4 linked regions of the Homo sapiens genome follow. The protein of the gene in region 3 purifies or fractionates together with the protein of the main gene of each other region. This does not show direct contact. Each region holds a gene or a part of one and is shown on either strand. Other genes may lie near its edges.

Region 1 (3,500 bases), on a different chromosome or scaffold from region 3:
TTGTACATAAATGAAATCATACTATATATACTATTGTGGAACCTGATTTATAATTAAAAATATAAAGTATTAGATTTTTTCCAGTAACTATAAATCCATATTATCATTTTTAATGGTTGTATAATAATCCATTGTATCCATACCCACTAAGTAAGGAAAAGATGATGGTTATTTGAGGATAACCAGTTAGTCTAGAAATTCTCTTATTAAAATTCGAATGTTTGAGTATCTCTATTAGTAAGTAGTAGAGTAAGTCAGGTTTTTTGTGGTTTCTTTTCTCTTCTCAGTGTTAGTATAGACACCATTGCTTGAATAGCAGCTGTTGTCTCTCCTTCCCCCTAGGAAGTTTGGAGTAACTGTCCTCTAGCTTCAAAGCAAACGACCTTCCTATTTAGTGGTGACATGGGAGAGCAGTAGCAGCCCTAATTAAACCTTACAGCCCTGGACAGTGCTCACAGTGTGCAATTTTGAGGATTCTCTGTGTGGTACAATATGTAAATGACTCTTAAGAGGCTTACAGGGAATAGCAAATGGATGCAAAATTTTATTAAGATCTTTCTGCTCCATTGGCAAATAAATTAGAAATGCTTTTGGTTGCTTTATTACAGTAATACCCTATGCAATTTTGCTTACTAATCAGCAGAGATTATCTCTAACATAATAATTACTCAATAACTAATGTTGTTTATCTAGTATACTACATTTTGGGAGACAGTTACTAGATTATGAATATCTTAGCTGCCAAATACACTTGGACATTAATTTATTCTAGGGACTTAGCTTCATGAGAATGTTTCAATTGCATAGAAATAATCTATCTGTTCTGTTTTTAAAGAAAATCTTCTTTCACAGAAAGAGCTATCTGTTTTTATGTTGACAGTGTAAACTATATCTAATTTATTCTTGTATTGACAGTTACACTTTTTTTTTGCTTTTTTATGCTTTAATGTTCTTCATTAATAAGTATTTGGAAATATACATGAAATATACCAAGATAAACAGGCTGTATCTTGTTATACATACCAAAGGCTAGCCTAACCCATGATACTTTCATGGCAGGTTTTTGAGATGGATATTTCTAAGCAGTTGCATGCCTATGAGGTGGAATATCATGTGCTACAGGATGAGCTTCAGGAATCTTCATATTCCTGTGAGGATAGTGAAACTTTGGAGAAGCTGGAGAGGGCCAATAGCCAACTGAAAAGACAAAACATGGACCTCCTAGAAAAATTACAGGTAAAGAAATAAAGATTTGAGCAAATAAGTACTTCAATGCCTCCTGCATGCACAGAACTACCTCAGGAATGAAAGGGATATGTGCGTGGAATGAACCATTGCTAACCAAGAGCCCATGTATCAGACTGTCCAAGTGCTCTGGGGCTACAAATGACATGTTAAATTAAACATTACTTGGAAAAAAATGCACCCTCACAAAATAGCTAAATGGCAGTTCAAAGTGGAATCTGCTTAAATACCTGTTGCATGTTATAGATATTTGGTTAAATTAAAGGGAGGAGGAATTGAATGTAGGAAATTGATGAAGTTGTGAAGGACCTGGGCTTGAGCTGGAATCTGGAGGGTTGGTGGAAGAAATGAGTGAGGAGGGTCTTTAAGTCAGGCTGAGTAGGAGGGTGGCATCAATCAGAAGGACATGGCAGAGCAGCAAAGTTAGCCTAGTGTCAATTTAAGATAGAGGTTGGGGAGAGGTAGGGTAAATATGATAGAGGCAGAATCGTAAGTGACTTTCAGTGTCAAGCCAAAGAACATGGCTTTAATCCTGTCAAGAGGGAAATCTCTCAAAGTTTTTGGGCCATGCTGTAGAAAGATCAATCTGGGAACCTTGACGAGGACAGATTGAGATGGGAGAGAAGGTAAGGAGGCCTGCTAAAAGTCACTTGTGAAAATCTGTTGCGGATGATGAGAGTTGTCTAGACTAAAATGGAAATTGGAAGAGAGGGAGACATGTCTAGGTAAATTGAATCCCATGCAAATGTTACATGTAATATTAATACATCATTCCTGCCATCAGGGAGTTCACAATTATTTGAGAATATAAAATACTATATATCTGTCTCTAAGCGCACACTTATACATGCAATAAGAAATTTATTATAAAGTCATATTCGGTATTTGCAACTTGTATGATGTGTGCTATGTAGCCATGCCCTGAGGGGAGGGGCTTAAGAGTGATCACAGGATGGGGGCTAGCAGGTGACCCTTCTGAAGTCTTCGGGGAGATGACTTCAGGGGAGTTTCAGTGTCTAATGGCTCCTCGGTTTCCACTTACTCCTCCTCTCCATTTCCCCAACACTGCACCTGGCTACAAACTGGAAAACACTAAAACTCTGCTTCTATATGGTGAGTCCCCTGTCAAGACCAGTCAAGAGAGACAGGTTAGAAATGAGGGATCTCTAAAGTAGTTGCTTCCCAAGAATGGGAACACTAAACTTCCTTCGCTTTGTCTTACATTGGCTCTGGCTCATAGAAAATGTAAATCTTTTTTTCTATTCAAAAAAGGGCAACATACTCTATTTTCAAAAAGAAAACTAAATGGTTAGTATATTGTCCATTTTTAGTTGGATAGGTCAATGGCGATTAATTATTTGCCCCTTATTAGGGAAGGTGGGTTTGTACCTGTTTTATAATGATTCGTCTGAACTGTTGTAGACTTTTTCACTGACAGTTCAGTGTAGTCATCATCAGTTACTTGGCCACCCCTCACATCTATAAATACTGATGAAAGCCCAAGTGTATGTTTAGAGAACGCCGTATTTCAGTCAGAGAAGGAAAATCTCTTTTAGCACTGCAATAGTGTCAGGAATCTCCTGTTTCTCCTTCAGCCAGGCCAGATCCCACTCACTCAGGGGAACACCAGTGGGTGTAGAATAAGGATTCCTACTGTTGGTGAGGGGGGTGATTTAGTATTGAATTATTCGTGTGTTCAGTGAGAAGAGATGAAGCATGGTAGTTCCATAGTTACATCTTTGTGAAACCTAATAAATCATCGTTTCCTGTAGGTTTTCAGAGTATTTGCTTCACATAATATTTTATTAAGTAATTTGAAGTAATTGGTTAATATGTGTAAGGACTGTCTCCTACTATAATGAATCATTTGATTTGGAGGATTTTTTCCCCCCCAAACAGGTAGCTCATACTAAAATCCAGGCCTTGGAATCAAACCTGGAAAATCTTTTGACGAGAGAGACCAAAATGAAGTCTTTAATCCGGACCCTGGAACAAGAAAAAATGGCTTATCAAAAGACAGTGGAGCAACTCCGGAAGCTGCTGCCCGCGGATGCTCTAGTCAATTGTGACCTGTTGCTGAGAGACCTAAACTGCAACCCTAACAACAAAGCCAAGATAGGAAATAAGCCATAATTGAAGAGGCACGGCCTCAGCAGAAAGTGCTCCTTAGAATACTACAGAGAGGAAGAGCCTGCATGTCGCTGGCCCAAGGCTGGACCCTGAAGCTGATGGAACCACCTAATACTGGTGCTGAG
Region 2 (3,500 bases), on a different chromosome or scaffold from region 3:
GTGCAACAGTGTGATATAGCTCACTGCAACTTCTGCCTCCCAGGTTCAAAAGATTATCCTGCCTCAGCCTCCCGAGTAGCGGGTATTATAGGCATGTGCCACCATACCCAGCTAATTTTTTTAGTAGAGACGGGGTTTCACCATGTTGACCAGGCTGGTCTCAAACTCCTGACTCAGGTGATCTGCCCGCCTCGGCCTCCCAAAGTGCTGGGTCTACAGGAGTGAGGCACCGCGCCCAACTAATAATTTCAATTTCTATACAACTCCTTATATCAACCATGTAAGAATATACAATAAACATTAAATTAACACAAGAATAAACGTTTTCATTTTTTTGTCTGCATTCTTGATTAAAGACCAAAAGAAGAAGTCTATTAATTAATAGTGAGTCTATCTATCTTTTTATTGTATTAGAAGAAAGTGAAAACCAGAAAAAGATGCTTACCATAGCAACTTTGGCTTCATAATCATTGGAAATCTGGATACAAACTTCTTCAGCTCTTGCTTGACAAGCTCTTTCTACCACATCTTTCCACTGCTTTTGCACTACGGAACGCCAGACTTTCCAGACTTTCTTCAGTAAAGTTCTCTGGTAGTACTGGTCAGCTAGTTTACCTTCATAAACCTAAATAAAAGTAAAATATAACTTCAAAAACACAGTTGATTGATAAATATATTGGTAGTAATAATAAACATAACATGGTGGTAAGTGTACATATACACATTATTTAATTCTATGTAATCATATTATTCTCATCTTGCATATAGGAGAACAGGCTTAGAGAGGTTAAGCAAGCTACGTAGTTCACATAAGTAGATGAGTAAAGCCAGACTTGCCTGACTCCAGAGACTGAGCTCTTATCCATTACATCATTGCTTTATGCAACTAATCAAGTTAGAGAAAAAGAATACAACCAAATGAAAGAAAATGAGCAAATCACCACTTGCCATCTTAGTTATGAATTTAGCAGGACCAGGAGAATAACAGAGTGGCTAGAAGGCAGGAAATGGTGGTGGCTGTGGCTTCAGATGACACTGCTTTCTCTTCAGTTTGATGGCCACCACAAGCAAGATTTAATTTATAAACCCTGCCATCATATATGGTGCCAATCCAAATAAAAACTTATGCTATTTTTCTTTTATCAATGAATTTAAATTCTTTTGAAGAAGTAGTTCCAATTCTCAATTTCTTCAGTTTGAAAAACTATCCAAAAGTGACAGTAGCCTCAACTATTCTGGCTAACATTTAAAAATAAATATGTATTCTCATTATTTCACTTGACAAGTTTCAAAGTAGAGTATAAATATTCATTTTAACCAGCTTACTTAATGTGGATTTAATCTACTGGGATTAATTAAAAAAATGAAAAATCCAGAAAGTATTCTTAAAGGAGAAATCTTATTCCAGGATAAAGTAGGTTGAGCATCTCTAATCCAAAAATCTGAAACTTTTTGAGTGTCAGCATGACACCACAAGTGAAAAATTCCACACAGAAGTACTTAACACAAACTTTGTTTCATGCATAAAATTATTAAAAATATTGTATACAATTACCTTAGGCTATATGTATAAGGTGAAATATGAAACATAAATGAATTTTGTGCATAAGGTGTGATATGAAACATAATCTAAAATCCAAAATTCTCCTGGTGCCAAACATTTTGGATAAGGGATACTCAACCTGTACTAGCTTTTTCCTTAAATACTAATCTCTTGGAAACTAAATACACAGAGATTATTCCATAGCTCACATGAATATACATGGAAAGCATATATATATATATTCATCTCCTATATTCATGTGTCTCTAAACTATGTCTTGTTGTGGGATATACTCATACTTTTCCACTTTTGATACAACAATTTAGTATTCTCTTTCAGTTCACTATTTACTGATATACCAACTCAGCTCTTACTTAAAATAAAAGATGTTCAAGTTTAAATGATATACTACAAGCTAAGGATAACTTTTAAAAAGCTGTACAGGTATGGCTTTCTCTGACTCTCACTCTAAGGCAAGTCTACATAACAAACATTTATACTGTGATTTAATGTATAAATATAGTAAAGCCTCTTTATGAATAAGTTGTATTCAGGCATTTTAAAAGTAGAAACAATATAGGAAGCATTTGATATGTTAAACATAACTTCTTTCTCCAATAACCACATCTGAGGGGGTTCTATTACCAGGGCCTTTACAATTTAGGAACAATCCTTATTAACCTACTATGAAGCAGGAAATGATGTATCTATTGTAATATATATATATTATATGTCAATAAGATCTAAACTGTATTTTTTCCAAACTACATCAAAATCAAATTCCTTTGAAATAAGAGGAACATTAAATCACAAATTCATTTTGACTTATTAGAAAACAACTATAATAAGTGATCCTGAGCACTTCTGAATTCAGAAGTCTAACATCCATCAGCTGTCTTCTGCTTTGACACTTACATCCTGTCTGGCTCTGACATGGCCGATTCGCCAGTGGAAGAATGTTCTCATCAACTCTATCTTTTCCTTTTGCTTGCCTATGGCATGAGACAAGCTAGAAATCACCTGTAAACAGCAATTAACCCAATTATTGTGATATTAAAATAACAGCAATTGGTAAAGTGATTTTCTCATATATCAAAAAATGCTAGAGAGGATAGGTATGGATCACTACTATATTCATTCAGTTAACCTCATTATTATCTTTAAAAAGATGGTAAAACTTTCTCACATGAATATACTAGATATCAACTAATGAAAGGGAACAAAAGAAGAAGGAAGTCTTCATTATGTGTATATGGTAATCACCAATAAAAAGTTTATGTATATGCAAATTAGCTACTGACATTCAATTCAGGTAAAACAATTATACATTTGAAAGTTCTCCTATATACACCATGTCTTTATTCACTAGATTTGAGGGCAGGGGCCAGAATATTTAGATATTTAAATATCTTTCTGGTCCCTACTACTATCTTGGATATAGAAGTTCCTCAACGACTGTCCAATGATTTTCTGGATTAAACAAACCTATAAAAGCAAATAATAGTTATATATGTAACTATTAATATGTTATAGTTATATATATAACTATATATTATATATGTTATATATACCTATTAATAACATGTTATACATATAACTATTAATAACATATATAACATATGTCATACATAAAATGTTATATATATAAGTAAATATATATAATTAATGTTATACATATAACATATTAATAACATTATATATAACTAATGTTATTAATGTTATATGTTGATGTACTTCTTCAGTGATATTATTACTCTTGTTCTTAAAAAAAAATTCAGAAGGCTTTAAAATCCTAAGATAATATTCTCTCTTATAAAAGAACTGAATAACTGAAATAAATTTCTAAAAATAGTCACATTAGAAAGAGATTTTGTAAATTGGGCACATTTACCAAGAGATATTTATAACTGCTCTTTAAATAATTTCCAGAGAGGAAAAGGGCATACATTCTAAGCTA
Region 3 (5,744 bases):
TGAATTTAATTAAAAATCTTCACCCATCTGAAGGATACTCTCCATATTTTGACATATATTTCTTTTTAGATTAGTCATGTGATTTGAGATCATTTAGATTTTGGCGTTTTGGCCAAGTCAGTCACAAAATTGATTTGAGAACAATGATTTTTTGGGGGCATTATTTTTCTGTGAGGTTAAAAAAGCCCTTAACTATTTTCTAGACTTCATCAACTATAACTTCAAATAGTAAAATGATGATTAGAGAATTAGGGCATATATGTAATTATGCATTTCAAAGGTAAGTATTTTCTTCATGCTAAAAATCAGAATGGCATTTATGAATGGTCTTAGAGACGTATAACTTCTATATAAAGTCAATGGTTTGTGAAATATTTTCTTGCATTGACACAATATGATTTAGGTTCTAAGAACTACTATTCACTTAATTTTTTTCATTGACAAATAAATGACAGTGCTATTCCTAAAGCTATTCTCTTTGCTGGTTCCTTTTAAAGTGAGTATTAAAAATGTAAAGAATTAAATGATTAATTTGTTTCCAAAATTGACAATATTTTTATCAATAAGAAAAAGCTACAATGTGAAAATTTGTGATCAAATTTAATTCCTGATATTTTTTCTTTTTTTTTTTTTGAGGTTTTAACATTACTTTGCGATGCTTGTCAGAAAGTTTATCTTCGAGTTCCTTCTCATCTTCAGGCTGAAACACTTGTAGGCAAAGGTGAGAAACACTATTAACAGTTTCATAGCTGTAACTTGTCACATTTAGCTGCAGGCTGCTCTTGTAAAGTTTGGGATAAAAACCACATAGTAGGCCGGGCGCGGTGGCTCACGCCTGTAATCCCAGCACTTTGGGAGGCCGAGGCGGGTGGATCATGAGGTCAGGAGATCGAGACCATCCTGGCTAACAAGGTGAAACCCCGTCTCTACTAAAAATACAAAAAATTAGCCGGGCGCGGTGGCGGGCGCCTGTAGTCCCAGCTACTCGGGAGGCTGAGGCAGGAGAATGGCGTGAACCCAAGAGGCGGAGCTTGCAGTGAGCCGAGATTGCGCCACTGCAGTCCGCAGTCCGGCCTGGGCGACAGAGCAAGACTCTGTCTCAAAAAAAAAAAAAAAAACCACATAGTAGCTACTTGAAGTTAAAATCGGATGTACAATAAAAGACAGGCTACTTGTTTTTTGGTAGTGGTTAGAAATAATTAAAATACCAAAGTTAGTTGTATACTTCTCTTGCCAAAAAAATTAGCAAACATCAGAAGGCTCAATTATCTTGGATTACGTCAAACAAAGCAAGGCACCAAAACCAGGAGCATATTCTAATTTGTATAAACTAATCTGCTGCCAAAATTTCAAAGCCAAGATTCTTCAATTGATTAGACATGAAATGGATGTCTCAAAATCTAAATGCCCCCAATAAAATTTGTACTTGAGGTTGATTACAATGAACAAGTATCCACCAAGAATAAATGTGACATATTTCACAGAACAGCTTGTGAAAATCAAATACAGTTTTGGTGGGTCTTAGTACCATAGCCATCTCTGAAGTATAAGTTGGTTGTTCTGAGCCCAAACGTAAAATTTTTTTCATCAAGGTTTTTCACTGGCTTTGCATTCACATGTAAAAAATTACAAACAATACAGAAATGGTATCCTTTCCAAGCCAGATGTTGTTTTGCCCAGTGCTTTAAGGTTTGAAATTAATAAACAGTCCACACTCTAAAGACACATAGTAAATACACTAAATGTGTTAAATATGAATCTGTAAAGGAGGTAATTTGATAATAACCACAGCGCATCGGGTTTACTAAACCTTGAAAGATATTACAGAAAGATTATTTGCAATATTACTGGGAAATATTACTTAAGAATAGACTGGTTTTCTTCTTATTTATTTATTTAGAGACAAAGTCTTGCTCTGTTGCCCAGGCTGAAGTGCAGTGGTGCTATCTCTGCTCACTGCAACCTTCACCTCCCAGGTTCAAGCAATTCTCCTGACTAAGCCTCCTGAGTCGCTGGAATTACAGGTGCACGCCACCATGCTTGGCTAATTTTTGTATTTTTAGTAGAGATGGAGTTTCACCATATTGGCCAGGCTGATCTAGAACTCCCGACCTTGTGATCCTCCCACCTCGGCCTCCCAAACTGCTGGGATTACAGGTGTGAGCCACTTAGTTTTCTTATTTTTGGCAAGATAGTTTTAAGTATCAAACTACTGCAAAAAGTTCAAAACCTACTGACATCATACGGTTATACCACTTATGACATAAAAAATCAAGTTTGTATACACATATATAAATTTATACACACACAATAATTAAGAGTTCAAAGAAAAGAGAATAAAATCAGTGACACTAGGAAAATATTTTATTTCTCAAATTAATGTATGACGAAGGTAGTGGAAAATGTGACTCCATTAATATAATTATTTAATTTTCATGGCCCCCACGTTTTAGAATAGCAGGTGCTGAGCACATTCCAAATGTAACCTCCCTTTTTCTGCTTCTCATGCATTAACTCACGGCTGTCATTCCTGTAAAACTTGTTCCACTCCTGTTTCATCTGACAAACTGCTGTGATATTTCTTCCCTGCAGTGAATCTGGAGGAGTGTCTCAAGTCGGCCAGCCTAATCCGGTCCAGTGACCCTGCCTTCAGAATTCTAGAAGATGGCTCAATTTACACAACACATGACCTCATTTTGTCTTCTGAAAGGAAAAGTTTTTCCATTTTCCTTTCAGATGGTCAGAGACGGGAACAACAAGAGATAAAAGTTGTACTGTCAGCAAGAGAAAACAAGGTATAAGGCAAGGGCTTAAGCAGCCTAGCACAGTAATATGCTTACGGGAGTCCTTCGTGTTTCATGTGTTTTAACGTGTTTCATGTTAAAATCTATGCTATTGAATGACAAATTTGTCTTTTCCACTTACAATTAGTGTAAATAAAGACTAGACTTTTAAGGAGTGGCAGAGCCATTTACAAACTTTTATAAAGATGAATGACTCTGTAGACCAGGAGCAAAGTAAGAATATCAGAGTTTTCTAATAGTGATTTCAAGTTTGGGAATAAGAACAAACCAACCTGAGGAGCAAGGACAAGACAGGGGCGGGTCTAAAACTCAGCGAAATGTGATTCAGGCTGGAGATGTGGGCTCCACCCTGTGCGGCTCTCTTCCCACTGATTGCGGGTTTGAGTCTCTCTTTAAAGAGGAGAAGAGACTGTTTAAAGCTTACTCCCATCTTACTAGAATATTCTATAGGGCAGGCCCTCTCTTCAGAGAGTGGAGGTGTGGCCAATCCACAGAATTGATTTGAATGTTTAACTCTAGGCTCATTTTCTTGCACTGAGCGGTAGAGATCAGTTCAGAAAGCAGGGAGGAAAAAGTTGCTGGAATTCACATCTCATTTTCAGCAAATTCACCACAATGAATTTCGTCTTATAAAACCATTTCTTAATAAATGATTCTATTTAGGAGAGGATTTCCCAACTAAATTCTTTTTGATTGTATGAACTCCTCTTAATATGCTTAAGACTTTAAAAATGTTATTTTATATCCACATTGTAAAATCCCCACATTATATAAAATCAAGTATACTTGAGCAAATGCTGACCTGTGTCTACATAGATGTATAAATGATTGTATTGTGGAGTGAGGGTTTTAACAGATTTTGGTTGTGCCAGTCCTAGTGGAATAAAGTTGATCCTTAAATATTTATTAATGAATTATCTATTTTAGGGGGAGTTTATACTTTCTCAAAGTGGCATCTTTCCAAATGCCCTATACATTTCCTGGTGGTTAACTGAGTAAATAGAGAAATAGGTAGAACGGGGGAACATAATGTAGTCTGAGGTGTGTGTGTGTGTTTTATCAATAGAAATGCTTTGCTGACTAGCCATGATATTGTAATGTGTAACCCTTACATCTGCTTGTTGATGTATGTGTAAAATAATCACAGTTCCAAAAAATGATAAGCAATGCTACATTTCTTTGTTTCTTGTCAAATGTAGTCTCCTAAGAAGAGACATACCAAAGACACAGCCCTCAAGCGCAGCAAGAGACGATGGGCTCCTATTCCAGCTTCATTGATGGAGAACTCGTTGGGTCCATTTCCACAACACGTTCAGCAGGTGCATTTCACTTATTTGATTTTATATGTGTCCAAATTTTTTTTTGTTCTTAAACTTTTCATTTGAATTGCACAGCATATTGAATCAGAGGTTTAAACTAATGGTACAAATAATGATCATCTATTCACCAGAACTAGGGTCCCATAGAAGTGACCCAGTATATCTTATTACTTTCTTACAGATATCATATTTAGAAATTTAGAAACAAGTTTTATATTTGGAGTTTCTGGTGCTCTTAGGTCTATGTCTAAATTCACCCAAATACTATGCTAGACTTGTTAACACTAATGTACAGAAGGCACACCTACATGTTTTGCATAGTTCAATTCTTGCTTAAACTAACACTCATCTTTTATAAAAATGACCTGTATTTCTGCTTACCAAGTAAGATTGCCTCACTGCCACATAGCTGGATTGCAAACATAGAACAGTTTTGAAATTTTGGAGTATAGTGGCATCAGCTCAGCTCACCGCAACCTCTGCCTCCTGGGTTCAAGCGATTCTCCTGCCTCAACCTCCCGAGTTGCTGGGATTACGGACACCCACCACGAAGCCCAGCTAATTTTTGTATTTTTAGTAGAGGCAAGGTTTCGCCATGTTGACCAGTTTGGTCTTGAACTCCTGATCTCAGGTGATTCACCTGCCTAGGCCTCCCAAAGTGCTGGGATTACAGGTGTGAGCCACTGCGCCCGGCCAAAATTTTCTAATTCTTGAGGAATTAATTGTGGAAGAAAAGTTGCTTTACTTCTAGTTTTATTATCACATAATTTTCAATTCCAAAGAATTCAAAATCACGGAAACTGTTACTATTATTTATATGAAGATAAGAATAAATAGATAAAACTTGAAAAGTGTATTACTCTACATGTTTTATAGATATACAAATGACAAAAAAGTTGAGATCAAATAAGTGACAGAATTTGTGGCTTTGCACAATGCAAAATGCAAATAAAAATTCGGAAAACATGGCAGATAATGGGCACCTAAGCAGAAGAAAGAAAGAATAGGAGAGTAGGAAAGAGGGGTAGTGGTAAAAAAATAAACCATCACAAGAGGTTAGGTTGAAAATATTCATCATGACGTATTTGTTCTATTCCTAAATTATTACTGCAGATCCAATCTGATGCTGCACAGAATTACACCATCTTTTATTCCATAAGTGGGCCAGGCGTGGACAAAGAACCCTTCAATTTGTTTTACATAGAGAAAGACACTGGGGATATCTTTTGTACAAGGAGCATTGACCGTGAGAAATATGAACAGTTTGCGGTAGGATTATTGAAATATTTATTCATAATTATATCTTTATTACTGGCTTACTAATATTTTCAACTATGCTTGTTTACATATTATAAGAATCAATTATTTGATTTAATATTCAAGATATTAATATGCAATATAAACTTTAAATTTCTATTCACCATTGATGGGGAAAAACAGTGGATATAATAAGGGAAGTGGCGGGGGAGGTAAAGAAAATATAACGATGGAATTTTAAAGGATATATTTTGGTCTGTAATCCTGGAGAAATAACAAAGAGTTTTACTGAATTTAAAGTTATCCATAATAAAATGACTCAGTTATTCTCAACCATGGCTGTACATTATAAGTCATGTGAGAA
Region 4 (3,500 bases), on a different chromosome or scaffold from region 3:
AGCATGTTGGCATAAACAAGTGCTGCCCGCTCAATGGAGGGAGGGAGCCTTTCTTCTGAGCTAATTTAAGCTAAATACATGGCAGCTATTTTTCATCTCTACAATTGTGCAACTTTCTCCTCAGTTTACAATACAGGGGAGATATTATCGGGCAGAAGTTGGATGGGGGATAAGTGAAGACGAGAAGGAAAAGAAGAGGCAGTGGACAAGAAGGTACTCTCAGCCACCGAGCTGGTGATTAGAGGTATTTCAAGAGCTCAGGAGTAGAGCTGGTGGTCCACTAGGACCTCAAGATCTTATCTGGGTGGAAACTTGATTTTGAGCCTTCCATTCAGGGAAGAAACCAAAGAGCAATTGGAGTCAGGCTCCTTTTCCTGCCCTTTATATGCAGCACCCCCTGACTTCCCAGAAGCCCAGACTGAACAGCAGAAATTTTACAAACCTCCTCAAGAAAGAAAAGCCCTTGCAGCTCTCCTGCACACCACCACGCACACTGTTATTCCTTAAGGCCCCCATATGCCGTGACTTCCAGCCCAGCTGTTACTAGACTGGGCATAGCATTCAGGCCTTGTGGTGAAGCCGTCCCAGAAGATAAATGATTTTTCTCCAAGCAGGCAGATTACCGAGTAGGATCATACACAGAGTCTTAGAGACAGAATCTTTCTTTCTGCATTTTCCAAGTTCCCTAACTGAGAAGAAACATCTGCAGAGCGCTGATAGACTGTCCACCAACTACAGCCCAAATGGCTTGGCTTCTGGAAGTTTCTGAGGCCTGAGTTCTAAACCTACCTCTGCCTCTTAGAAGGGACCTGACTTAGGGGAGTTTATTATAGCTTCCCTCTCTGGGCCTCAGATCCTGCTTCTGTGAAAGGAGAAGAGTGAGATAAGGGAGGGTCACTCATATCCATCTTAAGTGGTAACTCGAATGCCCTGAAGCTACATCTGTGATCAGTGGGAAGGCATGCTGTGATGGATTAGTGATGTCTGCCAAGAGTACAGCAGGGGACACTGGTGGTAGATCCATTACATATTTGTACTCCTTGGACCAGATCTTTATCCTTCTAGATCTTAGAGGTCCTTCTAGATCACCATCCCAATGACTTGGTTGAAGATGAAAACTCAGGTGAAAACTTAACCCTTCTGAGGGTGTTACATCTTATATACTTTTCACATTGGCCTCCAAGCCATGGTATGTTGGAGAAGCCACCAACACACAGCAGATTTGACCCCTCCATTGGAAGACACCATCAGCCAGATGTGGTGTTCTTGTTCATGGAACCACTGTCCACATGGATGGAATCGGGCTCTAAGCTACCTTTCTCATCTCCTAGCAGTGTCTATGAATGCTAGTGGTCAGCTCTTTTCTGTGGGCCAGTACATTGACATTGCCTCCTTCAGTACCAGGTAAGGTATCAAGTCTCATTCACAGAGGTTGACCTTGTTGGAGATTCAGAAACAAGCCTGGGAAAGCTTGGGAAGAACAGCCTCCTATCAGGCATTTAGAGATTCAACCACACAATAGTGTCTTAAAAGTTCTGATAAGTCCTGCAATCAAGAAATTAGTTTCATTTTACCTAAGCATTTCCAATGCATGCTTGTCCCAGGACCCTTTCAATAATGCAAATCCGGCGAGTTTTCCATGGAATGAAAGGTCTATGGGACATGCTTGGGAAACAAGGTCTTATTTAGATCAGGCACATTCTAGACAGAGTCCATCTCCTCCAGCTCAGTCCTCAGTGGAAGGAGGACAGCCATTCTCAACCCCATGAGATGAATCCTTCATATTCTTGGTGTTAGGAAATGGGAGCTGCATGATCCCAATGAGTGGGAAGGAAGGGCCCTTTCCCACCCCTGAGAGGGAAGAGCACTCACTGATGTACGCCTCTCAGGAACACGGGACCACAGTGCAACATCCAGCAGGAGAGACGGAGGGGATAGGAAGCCTGGAGCAGGGATACTGGAGGGACCCAGGAGGGACTCTGCCAACCCAGATGTACATTTCCTGGAAATCCGGGCTGCTGCTGGCAGCCTGTCAGTTTGAGAACATAAGTTCAAGCTTCCGTGCAAACTCCCAGTATGGTCCCTGCCAGCCCCTGCACCCTCCCTTCCACAACTTCCTGCTTTTCCTCTCTCTCTTTCCTGGTTCCAAGTTGCCAATAAGTCTCAGAGGCTGGGATTGTAACATCCCCATGAGCAGCTGGACATGAACCCCTTGACCTGGAGGTGGGTTCCTGGGAATGGATGAGCCCAAAGACTCGTTTTTAAAATGCTGGGTCTGCAATTTGGAGGCTGGTTTCTGTCCCTGTACCACAGTTGCCCCATTGGAACGAGAATAAGACTACTGATCTCCCCAAACCATCATAGGAATTCCAGCCTGGCACGTAGTAAGTGCTCTGTGAATGAGGGCTGTTCAGGGTGGATTGTTACTCTGCCTCCTAGACATCCTGGGCCACCTGACTCAATGGGTCGCTTCATACGTCACAGATATTAAACCTGGCAAACTGGCTCAGCACAATGGCTTAGCCCTGTAATCCCAGTGCTTTGGGAGGCTGAAGCAGGGGGATTGCTTGAGACCAGGAGTTCAAGACCAGCGCGGGCAACATAGCAAGACCCTGTCTGTACAACAAATAAAAAATTAGCCAGGCATGATGGTGTGCACCTGTAGTACCAGCAACTTGAGAGGCTAAGGTGGGAGGATTGCTTGTGGCCAGGAGTTCGAGGCTGCAGTGAGCTATGATCACGCTGTACTCCAGCCTGGGTGACAGAGCAAGACTCTAACTCTAAACCACAACAACAAACCTAACAAACAAACTCATTGGGGTTGATATGGCACCCACAACATGGTCTGGCAAAGGGGAATCCCAATACCATCCAGCCCTGCCAATGGTGCCCTTCTAACTCCCTGTGCCAGGGTCTTACTCTTACCCAGCAAACCTCTCTGTCTGCATTCTGTAAACATTTCTTGAGCACTTACTATGTGCCAGGCACTACTAAGACAAGTCCAGGAGGTCACTGGGACCGCAGATTTTCCATCAACCTCCTGCCCCACTACTGGTTTCAAAACTAAACTGGTAACAGAATGGGTATGGATTGCAGGGCCTCGAGAAGGGAGTCTGGGATTTGGGTTAATATCATAGTCAGGCACTGACCAGAGAGGACAGAGGTTCACTGCGGCTCCACATTCCAGGACCCAGACTGACATTTGCTGCCTGTCACTCCCCTTGGAGTTCAAAGTGATTCCCTTGCAGGTGTGTGCAGGTGAGGGTGAGGTGGTACGGGAGGAGGTGAGGCTGGGAGCCAGGGAGAGTGGCCACATGAGTCTGCCTAGGAACTTCCCCACATCACAGGCAAAGCCAAAAAAGGAAACAGCAAAATGTAGCTCATCAAAATCCACTCCTTTGTCAATGAACAAGAGTATAGATAAAATCAGATGCTGTGTCACCAACTGCTTTGGATAGGGTCATGAGGCACATTCAGGGGTCAAGTGACAGTCCGCTACA

The links.
Region 1: the proteins of DSC1 (region 3) and TBC1D4 purify together in Homo sapiens (affinity purification with mass spectrometry; one large-scale study listed by BioGRID and IntAct). This does not show direct contact.
Region 2: the proteins of DSC1 (region 3) and POC5 purify together in Homo sapiens (co-immunoprecipitation; one large-scale study listed by IntAct). This does not show direct contact.
Region 4: the proteins of DSC1 (region 3) and KSR2 purify together in Homo sapiens (co-immunoprecipitation; one large-scale study listed by IntAct). This does not show direct contact.

The regions. Positions count from the first base shown.
Region 1 is NC_000013.11:75,286,670-75,290,169, reverse strand, and holds part of TBC1D4 (TBC1 domain family member 4), read left to right. Parts: intron 1-1,059; coding exon 1,060-1,236; intron 1,237-3,144; coding exon 3,145-3,378; 3' UTR 3,379-3,500.
Region 2 is NC_000005.10:75,689,938-75,693,437, forward strand, and holds part of POC5 (centrosomal protein POC5), read right to left. Parts: intron 2,564-3,500; coding exon 2,459-2,563; intron 626-2,458; coding exon 446-625; intron 1-445. UniProt on the Homo sapiens protein: Essential for the assembly of the distal half of centrioles, required for centriole elongation. Acts as a negative regulator of centriole elongation.
Region 3 is NC_000018.10:31,154,422-31,160,165, reverse strand, and holds part of DSC1 (desmocollin-1 isoform Dsc1a preproprotein), read left to right. Parts: intron 1-636; coding exon 637-721; intron 722-2,592; coding exon 2,593-2,795; intron 2,796-4,003; coding exon 4,004-4,123; intron 4,124-5,236; coding exon 5,237-5,392; intron 5,393-5,744. UniProt on the Homo sapiens protein: A component of desmosome cell-cell junctions which are required for positive regulation of cellular adhesion.
Region 4 is NC_000012.12:117,458,491-117,461,990, forward strand, and holds part of KSR2 (kinase suppressor of Ras 2), read right to left. Parts: 3' UTR 1-3,500. UniProt on the Homo sapiens protein: Location-regulated scaffold connecting MEK to RAF. Has very low protein kinase activity and can phosphorylate MAP2K1 at several Ser and Thr residues with very low efficiency (in vitro).